Linked DNA regions of Homo sapiens: all the other regions are linked to region 2. The links come from fine-mapping of genetic effects on gene expression. A gene starts in region 2. Each other region holds a variant in brackets. All regions are shown on one strand. Distances are from middle to middle. Region 1 holds the start of CEP85 (centrosomal protein 85). Region 2 holds the start of UBXN11 (UBX domain protein 11). Region 3 overlaps CATSPER4 (cation channel sperm associated 4).

Evidence for each region. PIP is the estimated chance that this variant, and not a neighbour inherited with it, causes the effect.
Region 1: its variant is fine-mapped to the expression of UBXN11 in whole blood (TOPMed, PIP above 0.99).
Region 3: its variant is fine-mapped to the expression of UBXN11 in whole blood (TOPMed, PIP above 0.99).

Annotation. Positions count from the first base shown.
Region 1 is chr1:26,234,168-26,245,051 of GRCh38, forward strand. It overlaps CEP85 (centrosomal protein 85), which reads left to right and starts at 33. Exons shown (of 14, transcript NM_001319944.2): 1 at 33-143; 2 at 5,595-5,671; 3 at 9,999-10,151. The coding sequence starts at 5,617. RefSeq lists enhancers at 232-381, 702-761, 852-901. The variant G/A (reference allele first, on the strand shown) is at 5,529.
Region 2 is chr1:26,301,114-26,309,899 of GRCh38, forward strand. It overlaps UBXN11 (UBX domain protein 11), which reads right to left and starts at 5,523. Exons shown (of 15, transcript NM_001389556.1): 1 at 5,479-5,523; 2 at 1,700-1,805; 3 at 581-609. The coding sequence starts at 1,770. RefSeq lists enhancers at 1,431-2,630, 5,314-5,363, 5,764-5,853.
Region 3 is chr1:26,197,096-26,202,095 of GRCh38, forward strand. It overlaps CATSPER4 (cation channel sperm associated 4), which reads left to right. Exons shown (of 10, transcript NM_198137.2): 4 at 591-688; 5 at 862-982; 6 at 1,191-1,324; 7 at 2,789-2,963; 8 at 3,735-3,946; 9 at 4,259-4,424. Among named protein-coding and RNA genes, the nearest start is that of CATSPER4, 9.0 kb to the left of the region's middle. RefSeq lists enhancers at 877-1,376, 4,360-5,000. The variant A/G (reference allele first, on the strand shown) is at 2,081.

The DNA of each region.
Region 1 (10,884 bases), 66 kb before region 2:
ACGCGCGTTCTGTGGCGCGCGGCCTGGCGGGCGTGCAACGGCCGTTAGAGGAGCTGAGGGAGGGAACCACCGCTCACCGCAGACGTGGTGGCTGCAGTCAGTCTTCCCGAGTGAGGGATTTCGCCGCCCGCTTTCAGGCCCGTGTAAGTTTTCCTCCTTCGGGAGCCTCAGTCCTAGTGGCCGACCTTGCCTCTCCTCCCATAGCTCCGGCGAAGCCTCAGACGCTCGCGACCTGCCACCGTGAGGGGCCGGGGAGAGCGAAGCGCATGCGCCTCGGCTCCGAAGCCAGTGCCCCGGCATACGCCCTCTCGCGTCCCATTCCCCTCGCTTCCCCCGTTGCCTTGCTTTGCCGTCCGTGGTTCACCCCACGGCAGTCACTTTACCTGCGTGCCAGGCCCTGTGCCGATAGCCAGGGACACAGCGAGCGGCGCATTCCTTGCCCTTGCGGAGCGCACAGCCCTGGGAGTCGACGTTAAGCGGGGTAATCCCTCGGCGCGCAGTGAGGGTAGAGTGGAGAAATCTTACAAAGAGCGCAAAACAGAAGGCGCGGATCTAGTCGGAGAGGTCAGGGAGCCCTCCCCGAGGAGGAGAAGTTTGAGCCGAGATTGGAAGGCTGTGTAGAGAATTAAGGTTGTGGGACGGAAAGCACTTGGCGGGGCCTTACCCCGGTACTTCTCGGCCGGGGCGATTTTGCTTCCCTGGGGACATTGGTCGATGTCTGGAAACACTTTTGATAGTCACAGCTCCAGGGCTTGCTACTGGCATCTAGTGCGAAGAAGCCAGGGATGCTGTTACACAGCCTACTGTGTGTAGGACGCCCCCAACAACAAAGAAAAATCCCCCAAAATGTCAGTAGGGCGGAAGGTGAGGAAGCTTCCTTCAGCGAGAAGGAGCTGGTGCTTTGGTTGAACTGAAAGTTAGTGTGTTCAGGTTTATTTGTTCAACAGTATATTCAACGCTTACTTCACCTCAGTTAATGAGAGCGATCCTTTACACCAGTACATTCCCAACACGTGGCTCAGAGCCAGGCGCATAGTAGGCACGCAGTAAATTTCGGTTGATGAATTGAACACTGGGATAAGTAGGGGGCGGTGGTGATACAAGGACGATGAAGCTAGCCAGGCCTCATTTATTTGCCCTCAAACCTTGTCTGCTTTATAGTGATCTGGTGGTTTTGTATGTCTCACGACTTTTCTTTGTAAAGGCAACTTCTTGTCAAGGATTTGGCTTCTCTTTCACAAGGTTTAATGAATGATCAAGGCGGTGAAAATAGTGTAATGGTGTGAGATCCTTCGTGTGTCTGTGTCAGCTGTCTGTGTATCCCTTCAAATCCTCTCTTGTCTTGATGTGGTTCTCTTAACAGCTGCCAAGCATGATGTTCCACACTTAGATTGTAATTCTTTTTTTTTTTTTTTTTTTTGTGAGACGGAGTTTTGCTCTTGTTGCCCAGGCTGGAGTGCCGTGGCGCGATGTCGGCTCACCGCAACCTCCGCCTCCCAGGTTCAAGCGATTCTCCTGCCTCAGCCTCCCGAGTAGCTGGGATTACAGGCATGCGCCACCATGCACGGATAATTTTGTATTTTTAGTAGAGACGGCGTTTCTCCATGTTGGTCAGGCTGGTCTCAAACTCCCGACCTCAGGTGATCCGCCCGCCTCGGCCTCCCAAAATGCTGGGATTACAGGCGTGAGCCACCACGCCCGGCCACACTTAGATTGTAATTCTTATAGGGGAAAAATACTTACGGCAGTCAAAATCTAATTCTTGGGTAGCAACTTGAGAAATAAAGCCTAGGTGATGACCAAGGACAAAGTGAAGAAATTTTATGAGCTTTTACTGCTCATATAATTGAGGCTTGCAGCTCTAGCTGTCTGAGGCAGAAACTCCAACTTGTGGTGCCATGCTTGATCTCTTTTTTTGTGTTTTGTCACATGTAGAATGCTGACTAGACTACTGTAGCGTTAGAGTACAGTCCTGGCTTTGAAGCCTCTTCCTAGCCATATGACCTTCACTACTGTAAACCTTTATTTTCTCATCCATAAAATGAGGATAATAGTAACTGCCTCATAGGGTTGATGTGAACATGAAACATGAGACATGATACTTAAAAAGTGTTGAGCACAGTGTTTGATAGGTAGTAAGTGCAGAATGCATGTTAAATTTGTTGAATGAGTGACTGTTTCTGTAGTTTAAAGGGCTTTGAAGATGGAAACCAATCCTGTTGGGTGCTTTTTTTTTTTTTCCCCTCTGTCTGCCTCCATTCACTCCCTTTCTAAGCTTTATAACTGGTGTGTTACTTCTTGTACATTCACTTCTCTCATTTTTATCCCAGGAAATTTCTGTCTCCTTCAGTTGTCCCAAAAATTTCCACCAGTAGCTCATCTAATTCTTAAGTCAAGAATGATTTATTTTGTATTGTTTTACTCCTTACGGGGTTTCTTTCTTTCTGTTTTTCTTTTTTGAGATATTTGTTGTCAATGAGGGTCAGACTCTGAAATATTTGAAGGGATTTATTCTGAGCCAAATATGGGTGACCAGTGGCCCCTGACACAGCCCTCAGGTGATCCTGATAACGTGTGCCCTGGTTTTAAACATTTTAGGTAGACATGAGACATCAGTCAAATACATGTAAGATTTACATTGATCTGGAAGGGTAAGACAACTCTTAGTGGGTGGGGGCTTCCAGGTCATAGGTAGATTTCAAAATTTTCTGATTGGCAGTTGGTTGAAAGTTGTTATCAATAGAAAGGAATGTCTGGGTTAAGGTATCCTGGGGATCAACATTTTATTGTACAGATGAAGCCTCCAAATAGTAGGCTTTAGAGAGAATAGATTATAAATGTTTCTTACAGACATCTGTGTTAATGTTAATGCTTTTCCTAAATTCCAGAAGGGAGGAGGGTATAATGAGGGGTGTAGGACTCCACCACCACTACCACCATCATGGCCTTAACAGGTTTTTCAGCTTAACTTTGGAATGCCATTGGCCAAGGGGAGGGATCCATTCAGGTGGTTGGGGATGTCTTAGAATTTTTTTTTTGGCTTATATCACATAACATAAAATTTAATTTTATGTGTGTGCAATTCAGAGGTTTTTAATATATTGGCAAGGTTGTGCAGTCAGTCACCACTATCTAATCTCAGAACATTTTGATCACCCTGAAAAGAAACCCGGTATCCATTAGCAGTCCCTTCCTATTCTCCTACCCTCCCTCCTCTCAGTCCTTTGCAATCACTAATCTGTGTCTCTATGGATTTGCCTATTCTGACATTTCATATAAATAGGATCAAGCCTTTTGTTTGGCTTCTTTGACTTTGCATGTCTTCAGTGTTCATCCATGTTGTCACATGTATCAGTACTTCCTTTTATTGCTGAATAATACTCTGTTTTTTGGATATACCACATTTTATGTATCCATTCATTAGCTCATGGACGTTTGTGTTGTTTCCACTTTTTGGCTATTGTAAATAATGCTGCTACGAACATTCTTATTGAAGCTTTTGTGTAAACCTGTGTTTTCATTTCTCTTGGGTGTATACTTCAGTGTGGAATTGCTGAGTCATAGGGTAACTCGGAGTTCTCCTTCTGTCACCGTATTTTCAACTTGTCTGAATTTAGAAACACCTTAGAATCCAGTGCGCCTACCATTTTGTTATCCTTTAAAGAAAGGAGTGAAGAAAAGGATTTTGATATTGACAAGAAAGGAAATCACTAGTAAGGAGGTAATCTAATCATTCTATGTCATCATTTAACTCACTGAATCATACTTGCCATAAACTAAAGCTTTTATTACTGAACAAAGCTTCCCTCACCCAGTATGTGAAGAACTGGAATTGTGGAGGATGATACCCTTTCTATTGTAGATGCAGTGAATTAATAAGGGTTTGGGTTGTTATGTACTTTAGTGACCTCTATAGTATTCTCTTAGTAACAAGAGAATACTATAGAGGTCACTAAAGTACATTAGAGAAATAGTACCATATAGTCTTTTTTCTCCAGAGTGATAGAATTATGTTCTGTGAATTGTCCCAAACTCTTTTTTTTTTTTTTTTGAGACGGAGTCTTGCTCTGTCGCCCAGGCTGGAGTGCAATGGCGCGATCTTGGCTCACTGCAGCCTCCGCCTCCATGGTCCAAGCGATTCTCCTGCCTCAGCCTCCCAAGTAGCTGGGATTACAGGCGCCTGCCACCATGCCTGGCTAATTTTTGTATTTTTAGTAGAGACGGGGTTTCACCATGTTGGCTGGTCTCGAACTCCTGACCTCAGGTGATCCGCCTGCCTCGGCCTCCCAAAGTGCTGGGATTACAGGCGTGAGCCACTGAGCCCGGCCGAATTGTCCCAAACTCTTTTGGGGCTTTTATAAATTTAGAGTTTCTGAGTTGATACTCCTTGATCTTCCATGGGCTGTACAGTGCTACTTTTGTTGATGTAAATTGCCAAGTAATAACAGCACTTAGTATGTGTCAGGAACTGTTGTAAGTTAATTATAAGTGAATTAACATGAATTAGGTTGTGTTGTTATCCTCATTTTTATATGAAGAAAATGAGGAACAGAGATACTAAGAAATTTGCCCAAGGTTACACAGCTAATAAATTGATAACTTAATGTTTAGTGGGTTCAAGTGTATTTGTTTAGACTTCAAATCCACTTCTGCTGAATTCTCAGCACCTACCCCTAGTGTACTGTAAATATAAATATTTTAAGGAGTGAGAACATGGGACGAGAACTTCACGTTCCTAGCTCAGGATTGGAGTTCTACTTATGAGCAAGAATTCTTTCCCATCTTTTTACATCGTATGACTGACTTTAATTACTGGAAGAATTGAGGAATTTGTTTTGTGTTAATCATAATTGATGCTGTAATACTTCACTGTTGGTTTAGTTCTTTAGTTCTTTATCCACCTCGTCCTGTCATCAGGTCCCCATGGCTAAGAAGATTCATGGTAAAGTTTGTTAATTAAAAGTAATATTTTTAAATTTTATAAAAATCAGAAGGGTTCTAGGACCGTATGGAATCTGTATTGGTAATCTCTGGTTCTAGGTTTTCTATACTGGATTTGGGAAGAGAAGTAGAGTGGAGTATTGGGATTTACTTTGTCTTAAAAATATCCTTAGAAGTAAAACATGTAAAAACATATTTACTCCTAAATATCCTTAGGAATATAACATTTAGAATACTGGAATATTCTTTTTTATTTTTTTTGAGATGGAGTCTTGCTCAGTTGCCCAGGCTGGAGTGCAGTGGTGTGATCTTGGCTCACTGAAACCTCTGCCTCCCGGGTTCAAGCAATCCTTGTGCCTCAGCCTCCCAAGTAGCTGGGACTACAGATGTGTGCCACCATGCCCGGCCAATTTTTGTGTTTTTAGTAGAAATGGGGTTTCCCCATGTTGGTCAGGCTGGTCTCGAACTCCTGACCTCAGTTGATCTGCCCGCCTTGGCCTCCCAAAGTGCTGGGATTACAGGTGTGAGCCACTGTGCCTGGCCAAATACTTGAATATTCTATATGGTTTTGACAGTTTCAGTTGAAT[G/A]GGAACTGAGTTGCGGGGAATTAAAGATACTTCAGAGAACTGACTGGTTATTCCTTCATTCTACAGTTGGCTTAAATAACTGTGATTGATGGCCATGCAGGAGAAATATCCAACTGAGGGGATCTCTCACGTCACTTCACCGAGTGAGTAGTCAGAAGTTTTCTGGGTTAAATTCTGACCTTTGTTCTGTTTTTTCATATTCCTTAAGGTAAATATTGAACAAACAAGCATTCACTGAAATGCTGGTGCTAAAAGAATAAAAATAACATGGGGCTTCATTGAATATAAAAACAGGTCTCTGAGGGAACAAGTATTTATCTCTTGTGCTATGTGGCTTTCAACAGGACCACGTGGTTGGGAGAGGACGACATATAAAGGATTGGAACAGAATGACTTTGGAACATAGTTCCATTTGAAATCAGAAAAACACAGCATAAATTACTGTGTTCTATGTTGTCTTTGTCCTCTGGGTGGGTCAGTCATCTGCTAGCCCACAAAAATAGGAATTCTGCTTGGATGCCAACAGATTCCGTTGCATTGTTACTAGAAACTCAGGAATTTATCTTCAGAATGGATTAACAAGATTTTGAAACTTCAGTAGATATATTAAATATATACAGTCCTTAAGTGTCCATGGCGGACTGGTTCCAAGACCTCCTGCAGATAGCAAAATCCACAGATACTCAAGTCCCTGATATAAAATGGTGTGGTATTTGCATATAACCTGTGTATATCCTAATGTTTACCTTAAATCGTCTCTAGATTACTTGTAATACCCAATGCAATGTAAATGCTATGTAAATAGTTATACTGTATTGTTTGGGGAATAAGAAGAAAAACAAGTCTTATGCACATTCAGTAAGATACCATTAAAAAAAAAAATTGGTTGAATTCACAAACGTAGAAACCACGGATATGGCCAGGCGCTGTGGCTCATGCCTGTAATCCCAGCACTTTGGGAGCCCAAGGCGGGTGGATCACCTGAGGTCAGGAGTTTGAGACCAGCCTGGCCAACATGGTAAAACTCCATGTCTACTAAAAATACAAAAATTAGCCGGGTGCAGTGGCATGTGCCTATAATAATCCCAGCTACTTGGGAGGCTGAGGCAGGAGAATCACTTGAACACGGGAAGCAGAGGTTGAGGTGAGCTGAGATGACGCCACTGCACTCCAGCCTGGGCAACAGAGTGAGACTGTGTCTCAAAAAAAAAAAGGGGAAAAAAAAGAAACCATGGATATGGAGAGCTGACTGTATATTAAACACATAAATATATGTATGCACTGTGCAGGCATATTAAGTAGATAATATATATTTCAAATAAGTAATATTTTAGAAAAATGACTTGTTGAATTCTGGGGTATTGGTAAAGAAGAGGGCACGTTTAATTCAACTCAGGGTATGTTTTATTTAACTTTAAAATCTCACAGTGCCTTACTCAGCGTAGATATTTGGTAAATGTTTGGTGTATTCTCTTAGGCATGCTGCCTTGCATAGAGTAGGCACCATTATAAGCTTTGGTTGAATCAATTCAAGATTCATTCAGCAGAATTTTTTTTTTTTTTTTGAAATGGAGTCTCGCTCTGTCACCCAGGCTAGAGTGCAGTGGCGTGATCTCGGCTCACTACAAGCTCCGCTTCCCGGGTTCATGCCATTCTCCTGCCTCAGCCTCCCAAGTAGCTGGGACTACAGGTGCCCGCCACCATGCCCAGCTAATTTTTTTGCATTTTTTAATAGAGACGGGGTTTCACCATGTTAGCCAGGATGGTCTCAATCTCCTGACCTTGTGATCTGCCCGCCTGGGCCTCGCAAAGTGCTGGGATTACAGGCGTGAGCCACTGCACCCGGCCTCAGGAAATATTTTTTAAACATCTGCTATGTGCTGCACATTCTCTTAGGTTTGTACAGTTTCTATGACAATTATGTATATAATGCAAGTTTTTGGAACAATGCCTTTCCTATGGCTTTTTTCTCTCTTCAATAGTATCTCATTCAGATTAATAATGGTCTTAATAATTGATAAGGATGCTACTGATAGGACATGCACTATAACACAAAAAATTTCAGCTTTTCTTTTTTTTTTTTGGAGACGGAGTCTTGTTCTGTGGCCCAGGCTGGAGTGCAGTGGCACAATCTCAGCTCACTGCAACTTCTGTCTCCTGGGTTTAAGTGATTCTTGTGCCTCAGCCTCCCAAGTAGCTGGGATTACAGGCATGCACCACCACACCTGGCTAATTTTTTTGTATTTTTAGTAGAGACGGGTTTCGCCATATGCCCAGGCTGGTCTCCAACTCCTGAGCTCAGGTAATCTGCCCACCCCCGCCTCCCAAAGTGCTAGGATTACAGGCATGAGCCACTGCACCCGGCCAACTTCAGCATTTAAACTTCAATTTTGAAATAAGTGTAAACCTCTATAAATATACCAAAATATATTTTTAACAAATAACTCTTTGGAATTAGGGTATGGAGTAGGTGGATGGAAAAATGGTAGCGATGAAGAGTGGAAGATTAGTAGTAGTAACAGGGAAGCGGTTTCCAGTAGGAAGTCAGGAAGATGGTAATAGAGGCCCTCAATCTTAACTGTTTCAAAAGGCCTGGCAAATTTTACACTGACTAGAGAGAAAAAGCTGTGTAGACTCACCAGAAGGTGGGATTTCTTTGCTTTGGGCTAGAATTACACCAACTTAGTATAGTAGCATTGGCTAATCTCATGCCGCTCAGAAACTCGGATTGTTGCCTGTGTCTTCTATAACAATTACAGATTACTGAGTGTATAAAGATTCTTTCAAATCAGGCAGTCACTGTGATCCAAAGAATAGAAGAAGTATTTGGGGAAAGTCAGGTTGCCTTCAGTAGAAAGCCAAAGTAAGGGTAGCAAAAAATGAGCAAAAGTAGAAGAAAATAGATTAAAAAGATGAGAGAAGCACTAAACTTGGAAGAAAGGAATAAAGTAATTTGTGTCCAAATTACTTTGGGCGTAATCATTTAGTGGGAGCAATCATTTGCCTCCCACTAGATCAGCGAGTCTGTAGAACCGTATTTTCTGAAATCGGCTTTCACACTTTAAGTTAAATGGAGGATAAGTAGCTGCCATTAGTTTTTTTGTTTGTTTGTTTATTTGTTTACATGGATCACCAGATACACCTTAGGAAAATTATAGTGGTTTTTAGAAAATAAATTTAAGTCTTTGCTAGAATGTTAGTGAATCAAGTATTTATTGAACACTTCCTACCTACCTCCCCCCAAACAGCATATTTTAAATCAAATAAATCTCATCAGTCTTTTTGTCTTAACCTTCTCAGCAGTTTTAGTGATATCTTCACGTTGCTCTCAAGATAAAGCCCTAGGCTCTTCAGATTGACTTTCAAAACTCACCTTGATCTCAATAGGATTCACCTATTGAGGGTACCCTGGTTCAGTGAAGCAGTGATTTTCTTTTTTTTTTTTTTTTTTTCTGAGATGGGGTTTCGCTCTTGTTGCCTAGGCTGGAGTGCAGTGGCGCAATCTTTGCTCACTGCAACCTCGAAGCAATGATTTTCAACTGGGGACTGGACTGCTTGTTGCCCTAGGAATCATTTGGAACTATATGGTTATTTTCTGGTTTCACAGTGATGGTGGTCTTGGTTGAGGGTTGCTGCTGGCATTCAGTGAGTGGGAACCAGGGATGCTAAACCATTCTGTAATGTATAGACTACACATTGAAGAATGGTCATCCCCAGAATGCCAAAAGCACCATTGAGAAACTGTAAGAAAGAGGAAAGAATGTGGGTTTTGGAATCAGAAAGAACTGGATTCAAATATCAGCCCTCCCCTCTGTAAAATAGGGGTGGTAATACTTTTCAGTAAGTAGGTAGGCAAGATTATGTTTGTAAGGTCCTGTGGCTTTACAGGTTTCAATAAATGGCCACTGCTATTAAATATGATTGTTTTCTGTTCCAGTACTCCTGGATTCTTCATGGGTCTTATTAACATCTTTGAATATTCTCACTTCTCATACTATTTCCACTTAAAATTAACTAGCTCAGGCTTGGCGCAGTGGCTCACACCTGTAATCCCAGCACTTTGGGAGGCCAAGGCGGGTGGATTATGAGATCAGGAGTTCAAGACCAGCCTGGCCAAGATGGTGAAACCGCGTCTCTACTAAAAATATAAAAATTAACTGGGCGTGGTGGTGGGCGCCTGTAATCCCAGCTACTCGGGAGGCTAAGGCAGAGAATTGCTTGAACCCAGGAGGTGGAGGCTGCAGTGAGCTGCGCGCCACTGCACTCAAGCCTGGGTGACAGAGCAGACTCCGTCTCAAAAAAAAAAAAAAAAAAAAAAAAAACTAGATCGGAGCAGCTGAAATAGGCACAGGAGAGAGAAAGGGGTGGGTTGCTGCTATTCTCTTAGGTTTATGTGATTTTTTAAAAAAAGATCTGATGGGGTTACATCAGCTGGTTCACAGTAAAGGTGGGAAATGCCTCTTGTTTCAGGTTCCGATGTGATTCAGAAGGGCAGTTCCCTGGGGACTGAATGGCAGACCCCAGTTATCTCGGAGCCCTTTCGGAGCCGCTTCAGCCGCTGTTCAAGTGTAGCCGACAGTGGGGACACAGCCATTGGTACATCATGCTCAGATATTGCGGAGGGTAAGTTTGTATTAATGATTTGATTACCAATATGTGTTCTCATTTTCAGATTGCATTTTGGGTATATTGGCATTTCCAGATTGTGTTATTTCCAGAATGTTCATAACGTCATTCCATTTCATTCAAGGAGTCTCTCATTCTTCTTACCCTGTGCTTCTCACATCTGGTCCCTTTATCTAAATTTCTACTTTTTATCTTATCTGAAACAACTTTGTTGGGGGGTGGGGAGACAGGGTCTCACTCTGTCACTCAGGTTGGAGTGCACTGGCATGATCATAGCTCGCTGCAGCCTCCCATGCTGAGGTAATCCTCCCACCTCAGCCTCCTAGGTAGCTGAGACTGCAGGTATGCACCACCGTGGCTGGCTAATTTTTTGTGTGTTTTTATAGAGATGGCGTTTTGCCATGTTGCCCAGGCTGGTCTGGACTCCCAGACTCAAGAGAACCACCTGCCTCGGCCTCCCAAAGTGCTGAGATTACAGGAATGAGCCCCTGTGCCTAGCCTTTGAAACAACTTTCTGATAGGTTAATTGGCCTCAAGTCTTTCCCTCTGCTGCCAGATTATTTTTGCTAAAAGCCTAATTTCATAGTTTCCTATAAATCTTCAATAACTCCTATTGCTTGGGCGATGAAGTTCAGAGTCTTCCGTTCTGTGATCGTCCCTATCCCACCCACTCAAACATATTTCCTGCTGTCACCAAGTCTGAACGTAAAGTCCTGTTTTTTGTTTTGTT
Region 2 (8,786 bases):
TGCACTGTGCCCCAGGGAGTTTGAGGAGAGAGAATTCACAAGGCTGGGGAGCAAGGATCCAACCAGAATGGGGCTGTTTTGGAGTTCTTCCAGTCCTGCTCCCAGGGGGACTGGCATGGCCAATGCCAATGCCATGGTGGAGAGTTGGGGGGCAGGGATCCAAAGGCCTGAGCTACAAGAGTCAGGGTGGCAATGTGTGGACAGGCCTCCCGGGAGAAAGGCTGTCACACTGGAGGAGGCTGGAGGGGGAAGGGGGGCTGGGATCCAAACCCCTGGGCTGGGTAATCTCTTGGCCCTCACTTGGTTTCTAGGCACACACTGGCCAGTCCCACAGTGGGTCAAGGGGTTCAAATGTGAGTGGCAACATCTGTGCCAAGGGTATGGGGCCTCCTAATCTGAGAGCTTCCAGGAGGGAAGCCCAGCCCTCAGGGAGGACAGCATGGGAGCTGCACAGAACACGGTGGAGGCCGCTGCTCCAGCTGACAAGGGCCTTTCTCGTGTGATTTCTCTCCATCGGTCCAACTGTAGGAGGTGCAAGCACATGAGAGGCGAAGAGGGCACGAGGGCGGGGCACACTTACCATCTCCATAGATGCGGATTCCTCGCCTCCTGGGAACCCAGGCAGGAAGAAGGAAGAAATATAAGTTAGGGCCCCTGGAATGATACCAGGGATAAGGCTCTGGGCACCGGACTTCAGCCAAAGCTCAAAGAGATGGAAGCAGGGCCTCTAACTCCTGAGGACTTCCAGCCCCAAATCCCAGCCCCAGCCTGGGGTGAGACAAGGGACAGGCTTCGAGGTGTCTGACTTCACCCAGTGGAGAAGGATGGGGAAGGGGTGAAGAGCAGAGTCTTAGGTGGGAAGACTACAAGGCTTGCAAAGCCCATGAGCTCAGCCCCAGCTCTGCTCTGCAAAGGCTGTGAGGCCTGTTGCTTAACCTCTCTGAATCTTCTAGGCCTTAGAATGACTCAAAGTGGGGCCAGGCGCGGTGGCTGGTAATTCCAGCACTTTGGGAGGCCGAGGTGGGCAGATCACGAGGTCAGGAGATCGAGACCATCCTGGGTAACACAGTGAAACCCGTCTCTACTAAAAATACAAAAAATTAGCCAGGTGTTATAGCATGCGCCTGTAGTCCCAGCTACTGAGGCTGAGGCAGGAGAATCGCTTGAACTCAGGAGGCACAGGTTGCAGTGAGCCAAGATCGTGCCACTGCAATCCACAGCCTGGGCGACAGAGCGAGACTTGGTCTTTAAAAAAAAAAAAAAAAAAAAAAAAAAAAAGACTCAAAGTGGTATTCCAGAGAGCAAGAAGGAAGAGAGGTAAAAAATGTTTTGAAAACATGAAAGTGCTAGACAGATGTAAAAGATTCCCTTTACTGAACCCCACACAGGGCCTGGCCCAGGATAGGTCCGTAGACCATCTGTGTTTGCAGAATTAATCAATGAACAGTGAATGAACAGATGGGATGCCAAGCCACTCCTACAGGGCCCATACCTTACTAAAAGCACAACCCAGTTTATGCTCAGATCCAAAGTTGGGTGCCCCAGAAGAAGGTATAAAGAAAAAGACAGTGGTCAGGGAAGGCTATGTGGCCCTTCTTTGTATTCCCCAAGACACTAGGAGTCACTGTCCTCTGGCCATGGAAGGATAGAAGAGGATACAGAGGCGGGGACAGAAAGACCCCTGAGGCTGGCTCCTTACCCAGGATTCATAGGCTCCGAGGGCAGGGGCACTTTTCGGGTCTTGCTAAGGGAGGCCAAAGGTGAGCTCATAGTTCTACTTCTAGAATCCAGCTGTCAGGAACTCCCTAGAGGAATGCAGGAAGTCAGCCCCTGGGGACAGACTCAGGGCTCCAAGCCCAGGGGGTAGCCTGAAGTTTCCACTTCCCTGGCTACTCTTCCTAATGGGAAGCGCTGTCTAGGCAGCAGTACCTTTTGCCTCTTCCACTGTCTCCACAGAGGTTTCTGGAAGTTTCTGTTATCTGCCTGCTCCTCTGGGTATACGGCTTTCTGCTCTGAACTGAGAGACCTTTGGCCTGGTGGTGCTTGGGAAAGTACTGTGAGGGTGGGATGGGATGCAGAAATGAGTCAGAAGCCTGGAACTTTCCCAAACTTAGAGCCTGAAAATGCTACTACCCAGGAGGCTGTCCGTCCATCAGCCAGCTGGGTGACACAAAGCCCAAGTATCTCCTTCCCTCCCACCAGAAACCAGGTGCCACTCCCAACATCTCAGAGCCAGAGAGGCCAACCCACAGGCAGGATTCAATCAAGACACAGGCCGAGGTGGGTGGATCGCCTGAGGTCAGTGGTTCGAGATCAGCTGTCCGACATGGTGAAACCCTGTCTCTACTAAAAACACAAAAATTAGCTGGGCGTGGTGGCGTGCTCCTGTAGTCCCAGCTACTTGGGAGTCTGAGGCACGAGAATCGCTTGAACCCAGGAGGTGGGGAGGATGCAATGAGATGAGACTGCACCATTGCACTCCAACCAACCTGGGCAACAAGAGCGAAACTCCATCTCAAAAAAAAAAAAAAAAAAAAAGACACAGTCCATGTGACACCAAGGTTAAGATGCCAGGTTTTGCCACTCACTGGAGTAACCCACCCTCAGTTTCTTTTAGTATAAAATGGGGGTCGTAATAGTACTGGCACAGGCAGGGTTCTGAGCAGATTCAGAGATAACAGAGAAGGTCTAGCCCAGCGCCAAGCTCAAAGGAAGCACTGAAAAATGTGAGTTGGGGCTGCTGTTGTTTTTGCTGTTGCTGCCACATAGGAAGCACTCGTAAATGTTAGTTTCCTTTCCTTTCCTCTTCCTTCTGGAAAAAGGAGTGCACCTGAAGGACATAATCGAAGGCTACTACTCTATTCAGTAAATGACCTCAGGTGATCCGCCCCCCTCGACCTCCCAAAGTGCTGGGATTACAGGCATGAGCCACTGCACCCAGCCTGGACCAAATTTTTTAGGACAAATCCAAGAAGTTCCACTTTGAAGATGTCTGGTTCTGGCCTCAACCCTACTTCTGAAGTCAGTCAGCAAGGGAATCTATGCTGCCTGGAGGCAGCCTCCAATGCCTTCACTGCAGAGTTTGAGAATCATGCCCTGCCCCTTCCTTGGAAGGAGCCCTCCTCAAGGATCAGGCCCAGAGTTTCTTCACCCCCAGCATCCAGCCTCCCAAATCTGTCCCCACCCTGCCCCAGCCCCTGCCCTGTCTGGGCAGCCTCACGGGTTGTATGGCCAAGGCTCCCTTCATTAGTTCCCATGTGCTACCAGAGAGATCTTAAAACATAAAGCAGGCCGGGAGCGGTGGCTCATGCCTATAATCCCAGCACTTCTCACCCACAGAAAAAAATTCAAAATTCTGGCCAGGCACGGTGGCTTACACCTATAATCCCAACACTTTGGGAGGCCGAGGAGGGTGGATCACCTAAGGTCAGGAGTTCAAGACCAGCCTGACCAACGTGGCAAAACCCCATCTCTACTAAAAATACAAAAATTAGCCGGGCTTGGTGGCAGGCACCTGTAATCCCAGCTACTTGGGAGGCCGAGGCAGAAGAATTGCTTGAACCCAGGAGGCGGAGGTTGCAGTGAGCAGAGATTGCGCCATTGCACTCCAGCCTGGGTGACAGAGCAAGACTCCATCTCAAAAAAAAATTCATAATTCCTTGATATAGGTGACCTGGTCCCTGCTTATGTCTCCTGACCTCATCTCCCATCTTGCCGCCTCCCACACTTGAGCCACCTCAACTTCTAGCAATGCCTCAAATGCATGTGTATCCCCCCTGCCTCAACCTCAATCCCCCCACTCCCAGAACGGTCTCCCCACTCCTACCTGCACCCTTCCCTTGGCCAGCTAACTCTTTTTTTTCCCCTTCAGTTTGTTTTTCACTTATATTTTAGCTTTTTATTTGAAAATTATTATAGATTCACAGGAAATTAGGAAAATAGTACAGAAAGATCCTTTGTATCCTTCACCCAGCTCCCCTCAATACTTTTTTTGTTTTGTTTTTTGAGATGGAGTCTCGCTCTGTCGCCCAGGCTGGAGAGCAATGGCGCAATCTCGGCTCACTGCAACCTCCGCCTCCCAGGTTCAAGCAATTCTCCTGCCTCAGCCTCCCAAAGTGCTAGGATTACCGGCGTGAGCCACCCCACCTGGCCCATCTCTATAATTTTCTTACTTCAAAAAAGTTACACAAATGGAATTATACAGTATGCAACCTTTTTCATAAAACAGCTTTGAGATATAATTCACATATTTCACCTTCTTACAGTGTAATTTTCTTTTTAGTATATTCACAGAGCTGTACTACCATCACAATTTTAGAACATTTTCGTCAGCCTAAACAAACCCTGTACCCTTTGGCAGTCACCCCCAATTTACCCTCCAGCCCCCACCCCTTTTCCAAGGCAGCCTTAGGCAACCACAAATCTACTTTCTGTTCTATAGACTTGCCCACACTGCACATTTCATATAAATGGAATATATACTAAAATATACTAAAAATTGAAATTTACACTTTAAAGGAGTGAAGTATGTAATACGTGAATTATATCTCAATAAAGCTGTCATGGGAAAAAAAAACAAAACTCCTAAACCAAATCCAACATTTTCGTCAAACTCACTTCCTCCCACTTCCCCCTTCTTAATGGGACCCCATCACCCAACCACATTTTTTCTCTCCTTCCTTCCCTCTTACGCCATCTTGCCTCTTACATCAAACCCTGCAGGCTAAACTCTCTCACATATAGCTGCCCCTTTCCATGGCCACCGTCGGCCGTCCTAGTGGGACTCTCACTGCCCATTCTGGGGGCTGTCACATGGCTCCCAACTGACTTCCCTACTTCCAGTGTCACTCCAGTCCAGTCCGACACATTGTCTCCAGGTTAATCTTCTCCCAGATTACAAGGGCCCCTGAAGGCAAAGGCTGCATTTCCCTGTCCGTTTGGGGGGACTCCTGAGGGCAGGGGCATATCTCTTTCTCCTTCAGATTAGGGAGCCCTGAGGACAGTCGCCTAACTCCTTCACTTTGGGGCTTCCAAGGGCAGGACTGTGACTACCCCTCAGGCCAAAAGGTCCTTAAGGCAGAGTTGTCACCCACTTCAGACCTGGCTCTGAGAGCAAATCTCTGCACCATGCCTCTACATCTTTGGAACCAAACTCAGTGCTGTGCTTGACTCACAACATTCTTCTTCACACCTCCTCGGCCTCTCCGTCATCCCCAGAGCCCAGAGCTCTGGCGGGGACACGGTCCGGCCCGCTGCCAGGACTCCCTAATGCCCCCAGGACGCGCTCAGGGAGCGACGTCTATCACGATCTAACCCAGCCCTGGAGGCCGTGTCGCCTCCTTCCGCCTCCACGCGTAGTCATGGTAAGCAGGGTCTTGAACCTCTCCTGTGGGAGCCGCGGAGCTCGCAGGCCCTCGGGGCTCGGGCTCCAGCCTGCGTGGGGACTCCAGGGGCAGAAAGGTCTTAAGCCAGACTCACCACGCAGGGCCGCTAGCCGTCCCGCAGCGCCGCCATCTTGTTGTCACGCGGTTTCCTAGGCGACCAGGACCCGTGCACTTCTCATTGGCTAGTTTGAGGGAGGCCTGAGCAACCTGCAGACAGCGAAGGTGGATACAGTCGCCTGTGCTCGGATTCTATTGGCCCACAGAGTCGGTATTCTTCGCGGGCGAATCCCAGAATGCACCGCTCTGAGAGGGCTCCAGGTCCGGGGCGGGGTGGGGGGGGGGGGTGGTTCGTTCCTACCCTCAGGTGCGGGAGGAAGGAGCCTGGGATTAGGTTAATGAAACTGCTGGCAGCCTCACATTCAGGACCTGAATGTGTGATCCCGACAGTGCCGCTATTTTGCTAAATTGATCTTGGGAGGAATTATCCCTCTTAGCTTATTTCCCCATATGATCAGTATTGTAACACGAAGTACTGTAATACTTCACGGAGGCTGCTTTGAGGATGGATTGCAATGATGCAAGTACTTAATAAATGTTTCCTAAATCTGAGTTTCTGTGACAAATCCTTGACCAGATTGGCGCCCGGAAGGGCGGCCCAAATTCTAGTTCCCTTGTGTTAAGAGTTGGGTAAGACAATTTCCCCTCCCAGAGCCTCATCTGTAAAATTGTGTTGGATTAGACTCAGTCACCAAAACAGCTAAAGGCAGTTAAGACCACGAACTTTGGAATTAGGAGTCCTGGCTCCTTACTGTGTGTTCTTGGGCACTTTATACACCTTAGTTTTTATATCTGTAAAACAGTGATAATACCTACCCCCACTGGGTTGCCGTGAGGATTAAATAAGGTAATGCAAAGTACACGATTTTAAAGGGGAAAGCCGAAACAGAAACACCTGTAGAGAGCACTTTTTCAAAAACGTTTCCTGCTGTTAATCATCATCATCATCTCTTCACCCTTTCAGCTGTGATGGTCTGGGAGTTTATGATTTCTGATCTCAGGCACTCACTTCTTTGTGCCCAGGTTCAAAAGCCCTTTCTCTGCACAACCCAAGAGTGTTTTTCTGTTGCTTTTTTTTTTTTTTTTTTTTAATTTTCCGTTTGACTTTCTAGCCTACCACATTCAGGGAAGGGTAGGCTCTGCTCACTGCAACATCCGCCTCCCAGGCTCAAGCTATCCTCCCATCACAGCCACCAGTGTAGCTGGGACTACAGGTGTGCACAACAACGCCCAGCTAGTTTTTGTATTTTCTTGTAGAGACGGGGTCTTGCCATGTTGCCCAGCCTGGTCTCAAACTCCTGAGCTCAAGCCATCCGCCCATCTCTGCCTCCCAAAGTGGACAGCATTCTTTATATGCAAATTGGAAGCTAAAGAGAGCTACTACTACTGAGTGCCAAGTACCAGATGGTAACATGAAATTTACAGATGAGGGCCGGGCGTGGTGGTTCACGCCTGTAATCCCAGCATTTTGGGAGGCTGAGGCAGGCGGATCATCTGAAGTCGGGAGTTCGAGACCAGCCTGACCAACATGGAGAAACCCCGTCTCTACTAAAAATACAAAATCAGCCGGGCATGATGGCGCATGCCTGTAATCCCAGCTACTCAGGAAGGCTGAGGCAGGAGAATCGCTTGAACCTGGGAGGCGGAGGTTGCGGTGAGCTGAGATCGCACCATTGCACTCCAGCCTGGGCAACAAGAGTGAAACTCTGTCAAAAAAAAAAAAAAGAAAAGAAAAGAAAAAAGAAAAAAACAGATGAGAAAACAAGCTCAGGGTAGTACAGCGGCTTGCATAAGATTATAAAGGCAGGAAGCAGAAGTGGATTCAAACCCAGAACGGTCAGCCTCAAGAGTCCACGCTCTTCCTAGAAACTTTCACTCTGGTAAACAAGGCAGGCATAGATAAGCCAAGGAAGAAGGTGGTACAGACCTACTGCCAAGGGAGGAGTCTGGGCGGAAAGTGTGACTGGAGAGTGGACATAGGAAGAGCTCTCTTGTTGCTGAGCTGCTCCCAGAAAGTTTTCTGAGGTTTTAGGTATATGAAGATGAGAAAGACTGAGATCATGTCGGGGCCAAGTGTTTTTTGAGGTTGGACCCATGGTCAGGGTGAGTAGCAACTTCATACTGTCACCTTGCTCATGGAGATAAGCAAGCGTGGGAAGCAGGAGCTCTGGTCTCATGAGCCCTGCTGTGGTCTGCCCTCTGATTCCTGCCTCAGCAAGAACCAGATCGTGAGTGGCATTTACCCAGGCACCAGGATTTACCCCATCCCTTCTTCCCACCCAGGGCCTGGCTGTAGATTCCGCAGCAGGCAGACACTCAGTAAACATCTATTTCCTGGGAGGAAAATGGGAGCCCTCTAACCTGGCAGGCCAGTCGTTTGATTTTTTTTTTTTTTTTTTTTTTGAGTCTTGCTCTGTCACCAGGCTGGAGTGCAGTGGCACGATCGTGGCTCGCCACAACCTCCACCTCCCAGATTCAAGCGATTCTCCAGCCTCAGCCTCCCAAGTAGCTGGGACTACAGGCACACGCCACCATGCCCAGCTAATTTTTTTGTATTTTTAGTAGAGACGGGGTTTCACGATGTTGGCCAGTGTGGTCTCCGTCTCCTGACCTTGTGATCCGCCCACCTCAGCCTCCCAAAGTGCTGGGATTACAGGCGTGAGCCACTGCGCCCTGTCCCGAGTCAATTGATTTTTTTTTTTTTTGAGACAGAGTCTCACTCTGTCGCCAGGCTGGAGTGCAGTGGTGTGATCTCAGCTCACTGCAATCTCCAACTCTCTGGTTCGAGCAATTCTCCTGCCTCAGCCTCTGAGTAGCTGGGATTACAGGCAAGTGCCACCACCCCCAGCTAATTTTTGTATTTTTAGTAGAGATGGGGTTTCACCATGCTGGCCAGGATGGTCTCTATCTCCTGACCTCATGATCTACCCGCCTCAGCCTCCCAAAGTGCTGGGATTACAGGTGTGAGCCACCGTGCCCTTCTGGTTTGATTTTTTTTAAAAAAATAACATTTATTGGGAAAGTCAGAGCCTTATTATAAAAATATACAATTTCACTGGAGAAACTTGGAAAATAATAAGAGCCATCATTTGTTGGGGATACATTGTACTGTGGACCAGCATAACTTAACAACTCTATGAGGCTGGGCTCTGTCGTTTAATAGCTGGCTGTTCCTGCTCAAGATACTTCACTTGTCAGAGTCTCAGTGTCTACAAATGTAAAGTAGAGATACTAATAGAATCTACCTCCTAGGATTATTGTACAAATTAAATTTTCCATAATGAGGCACCGGCCCCAGCATGAGTGGGGACAACAGCTGAAAAAAATATATACACTATTTTAAAA
Region 3 (5,000 bases), 110 kb before region 2:
TGGAGTTTCACCATGTTGGCCAGGCTGGTCTCAAACTCCTGACATCGTGATCCACCTGCCTCAGACTCCCAAAGTGCTGGGATTACAGGTGTGAGCCATCGCGCCTGGCCCGCCTGTCTCCCTTTCTTGTGCCGTGAGAGCTATTTCACCTCAGAACTGGCTACTGAAGCAGTATTCCTTATGTTTTTACTAGTATCCATTTTCATTTTATTATTAATTGTAGTGTGTGTCACACAAAGGCAGGAACAGCCAAGTGTTTTCATGTTACCTACCTGTAGGGCAAGGCTGTTTTGAGCATGCTTTAGCCAAGGTGGGCACTCAGCTTAGGGACCAGCCATGTATCTGTAAGGGTCTTTGCTGTGTGTCTCTGAGACTGCATTTGGCTATTGACACATGTATGGGACAGAGAGTACACGTGTGTTTTGTGGCTTGTTTGGGGGGCGGCAGGGTAACAGCAGTGGATGGCAGCTGACTGGCCCTGCTCTGAGAGGGACATTGAGCCCTCATCCCTGGGATGTGGGGAGGGCAGACCTAGGATGCCCCCATGGGCTGGGCCTGACAGACCCCACTGGGGCTGGCCCACTCCCCAGGACGGCTGGAACATCCTCAACTTCATTATCGTCTTTATCTTGCTCTTGCGGTTCTTCATTAATGAAATCAATATTCCCTCCATCAACTACACTCTCAGGTGAGCGGGGAGCTCTGGAGAAATGAGGGGGACCTATCTGGAACCCAGGAATGAGATGGGGGGATAACGACCAGCTGGAGATCAGCTTTGCCTCTCTGGGCAGCTGGTGGGGGTAATGAGGAGGGAAGGGGCTGGGAAGGGCCTAGGGGCACCCCTGACAGGCTCTGCCACAGGGCGCTTCGTCTGGTGCATGTGTGCATGGCGGTGGAGCCCCTCGCCCGGATCATCCGCGTCATCCTGCAGTCGGTGCCTGACATGGCCAATATCATGGTCCTCATCCTCTTCTTCATGCTGGTCAGTGCCTGCCCCCGCCCCCAGCTGTTTCCCTTCCCTGAACAGGGCCCTTGGGTCATTGCAAATAGAGGGGTGTCTGGAAAAGCAGAGAGGCCTGTGGGCCTGAATCCCTGTGATTTCCTCAGCAGCGTTCATTTACATGACATTTGTGTGTCCTATTTCCAGGCCCTTTGGTGAAGTCGGGGTGGGGCTCTTTTCTCTCTGACAGGTTTTTTCCGTGTTTGGAGTAACACTCTTTGGTGCATTCGTGCCCAAGCATTTCCAGAACATACAGGTTGCGCTGTACACCCTCTTCATCTGCATCACCCAGGACGGCTGGGTGGACATCTACAGTGACTTCCAGTGAGTGCCAGTGGGACTTCCAGCCTCATCCCACCTATGGGGCAGGGTAGCCGGTGGAGCTCCAGGCTGAGAGTGGGAGCTCCAGGGATTGGGATGAGGATGGCCCAGTAGAAGTGGGGGTTCCCAGGTCTTTAAACAGAGGAAAAGGAAATACCTGGACTTGTGATACCTGAAGCCTTGTCACCCTTGAATCTCCATATATTCAGAGTCCCATTCCCACCCTGTAATGGGGACCTCTCCCATCATGCTAACCAGCTGGGTAGTTGGCCTTGGATAAGGCAGCAGGTCTGCAGTTATGCCTCAGGTTACAGAGCAACCTCCCAGCCCACCTTGGAGCCCACCAAACTGCCTGAACTCCTGGGAACTTCAGGTCTCATTTCATTCATTCTTAAACCCACTGCCCACATTCATTTTTGTGTTCTGTTCTTTACCTCTTTTCTATTAAGTCTAAGCCCTATTTCTTTCCAGTTTATTCCAGAAAGTGGGACCCCTTAACTGATTTCTTTTTATCTTCTACATGTGAGTATAGAAGCCCAGTAGATAAAGGGCTTCTACAGTCATTCTCCATTATGGCATAGGTAGTGGATAAAAATCAGGCTGGCCGGGGCCGGGCGCGGTGGCTCACGCCTGTAATCCCAGCACCTTGGGAGGCCGAGGTGGGCAGCTCACGAGGTCAGATCAAGGCTATCCTGGCTAACACAGTGAAACCCCATCTCTACTAAAAATACAAAAACAAAGCCCAGTGCAGTGGCTCAC[A/G]CCTGTAATCCCAGCACTTTGGGAGGCTGAGGCAGGTGGATCACAAGGTCAGGAGTTCAAGACCAGCCTGGCCAAAAAGGTGAAACCCCGTCTCTACTAAATATACAAAAATTAGCCGGACGGTGGGGCGCCTGTAATCCCAGCTACTCAGGAGGCTAAGGCAGGAGAATCGCTTGAACCTGGGAGGCGGAGGTTGCGGTGAACCCATATCACGCCACTGCACTCCAGCTTAGGTGACAGAGTGAGACTCTGTCTCAAAAAAAAAAAAAAAAAATTAGCCAGGCGTGGTGGCAAGCACCTGTAGTCTCAGCTACTTGGGAGGCTGAGGCGGGAGAACGACATGAACCCAGGAGGTGGAGCTTGCAGTGAGCCGAGATCACGCCACTTCACTCCAGTCTGGGCAACACAGCGAGACTCCATCTCAAAAAAAAAAAAAGGAGTGTAGCTAATAGATTAAACTTAATAGTGTTGATGTGCACGTCCCCACCTTGCAGGGTTGGTTAGAGAATCAGCTCACTGTCTGGCAGCACAGTAGGTGCTTAGTAGAGAGCAGCTATTGAGACAGGAGTAGGGAATGGGATCTGCACAACAGCAGTGACACAGGCAGAAGTTCTAGTAGGCCTTGGGATGATTTTCCCATTTCAATGACAAGGAAACTCAGGCTTGAAGGGCCAGGGAAATGATGGGGCCCCTGCCTGCCATCTGCAGGACAGAGAAGAGGGAATATGCAATGGAGATTGGGGGTGCCATCTACTTTACCATCTTCATCACCATCGGTGCCTTCATTGGCATCAACCTGTTCGTCATCGTGGTGACCACCAACCTGGAGCAAATGATGAAGGCAGGAGAGCAGGGACAACAGCAACGAATAACCTTTAGTGAGGTGCGTGGGATGGGGAGGGCAGAAGGGAGGAAAAGGAGTGTGTATGAGAGCGGACTTGAACATATGTGCATGTATGTGTGTGCTTGCATAATCAAGGGCCTGGAGAAAGCCAAGTTGGAGGCCTGGAGGCAGCAGCCCCCCATCTTGAGTGCCCACCCACCAACTGGGGCTTCTGAGGGGTGTGGATTTTCTAGATGTTAGATTTCTATGGCAACTCAAAACTGAGCAGCTGGGTGACCTTGGGGCATTTACCCACTCTAAGCCTCAATTTTTTTCTTTTGTAAAATGGGAATAATAATAGTACTTAACTCATAGGGTTATTTTATGAGGGTTAATGGGTAAATGAACAGTGCTTGGCGCATAGTAAGCACTCAATAAATGTTAGCTACGGTATTATTCATTCAGGGCAGTACTTCCATAAGGTTGGGGAAAGGGGTGGAGTACTTCTAAAAGAGTGGAGTGCTGGAGGCCTGGGCTTGAGGGTAGGCAGGGCTTTATAAATTTGCTGGGTAGGGTTTATCAGGGTTGAAATCTGGGGCAGGGCTAAATTTTGAAATGGGGTGAGAATTTTTAAAGAGGTGGGGGGAGGTCATGTGCATTTAAAGTTGGGTTCCCCCAGCAAGGCAGTGAGGCTAAGATTGGTGAGAGCTGAAATGAGGGCCTTAGAACCCTGGGGTCCTAAGAGACTCATCCTGAAGCCAAGCAGGAAAAGGGTGCCGGGGGCGTGCCTGCCTGAGCTGTCCCGACCCCTCTCTATCCCCCGCTTCCCAGACAGGCGCAGAGGAAGAGGAGGAGAATGACCAGCTGCCACTGGTGCATTGTGTGGTCGCCCGCTCGGAGAAATCTGGTCTCCTCCAGGAACCCCTTGCGGGAGGCCCCCTGTCGAACCTCTCAGAAAACACGTGTGACAACTTTTGCTTGGTGCTTGAGGCAATACAGGAGAACCTGAGGCAGTACAAGGAGATCCGAGATGAACTCAACATGTAGGGGAGGGTACTGGGGCTGCCCCCAAGTCATGTGAGTCAAGGCTGGGCGGAGCGTCAGAGTCTTCTGGCCTCACGCCCTCACCATTTATAAGGCAGAGCCTGGGCCCCACAGAGGTCCCCCACCCTATTGGTGGAGGAACTGGAATCCAGACTCCAGGTTCCTTCCATCTCACACAAGGGCACAGCTCGGCCTGGGTCTCTGTCAGGGCTGCGTGGGAGAGCGAAGCGGGGGTGACGCCAGGGAAGAGGTGGGAGGGCTGCTTCCCTCCCCTGAGGCCTTCTGAAAGGCACTCACTGCTCCACCCCCAGGATTGTGGAGGAGGTGCGCGCAATCCGCTTCAACCAGGAGCAGGAGTCAGAGGTGTTGAACAGGCGCTCGTCGACGAGCGGGTCGTTGGAGACTACGTCATCCAAGGACATCCGCCAGATGTCTCAACAGCAAGACTTGCTCAGTGCGCTCGTTAGCATGGAAAAGGTGTGCCTTCCTTCTCCTACCCAATGGGTACTCGCCCTGACACTCTGCTCAGCCCAGCCCAGCCGGGCCTCTGGACCATTTGTCAAAGTTTCTGTCTATTCCAAGATCTGGTCCCCCTCACCACCACCACCCCTCCTTTTTTTTCTTTTTTCTTTTTCTTTCTTTCTTTCCTTTTTTTTTTTTTTTTTGAGACGGAGTCTTACTCCATCGCCCAGGCTGGAGTGCAGTGGCGCGATCTCGGCTCGCTGCCACCTCTGCGGCCTGGGTTCAAGCGATTCTCCTGCTTCAGCCTCCCAAGTAGCTGGGATTACAGGTGCTTGTCACTGCACCTGGCTAATTTTTGTAGTTTTAGTAGAGATGGGGGTTTCACCATCTTGGCCAGGCTGGTCTTGAACTCCTGACCTCGTGATCCACCCTCCTTGGCCTCCCAAAGTGCTGGGATTACAGGCGTGAGCCACTGCACCTGGCTGTCTGCCTCTTAAACTTCCATCTGCCTCAGCTGTCACTGCCTATCTGGTTAGGTTCTGCACTTTCCTTCTCGGAAAGGCTCCACCCTTCCTGCCAGTTTCATCTCTA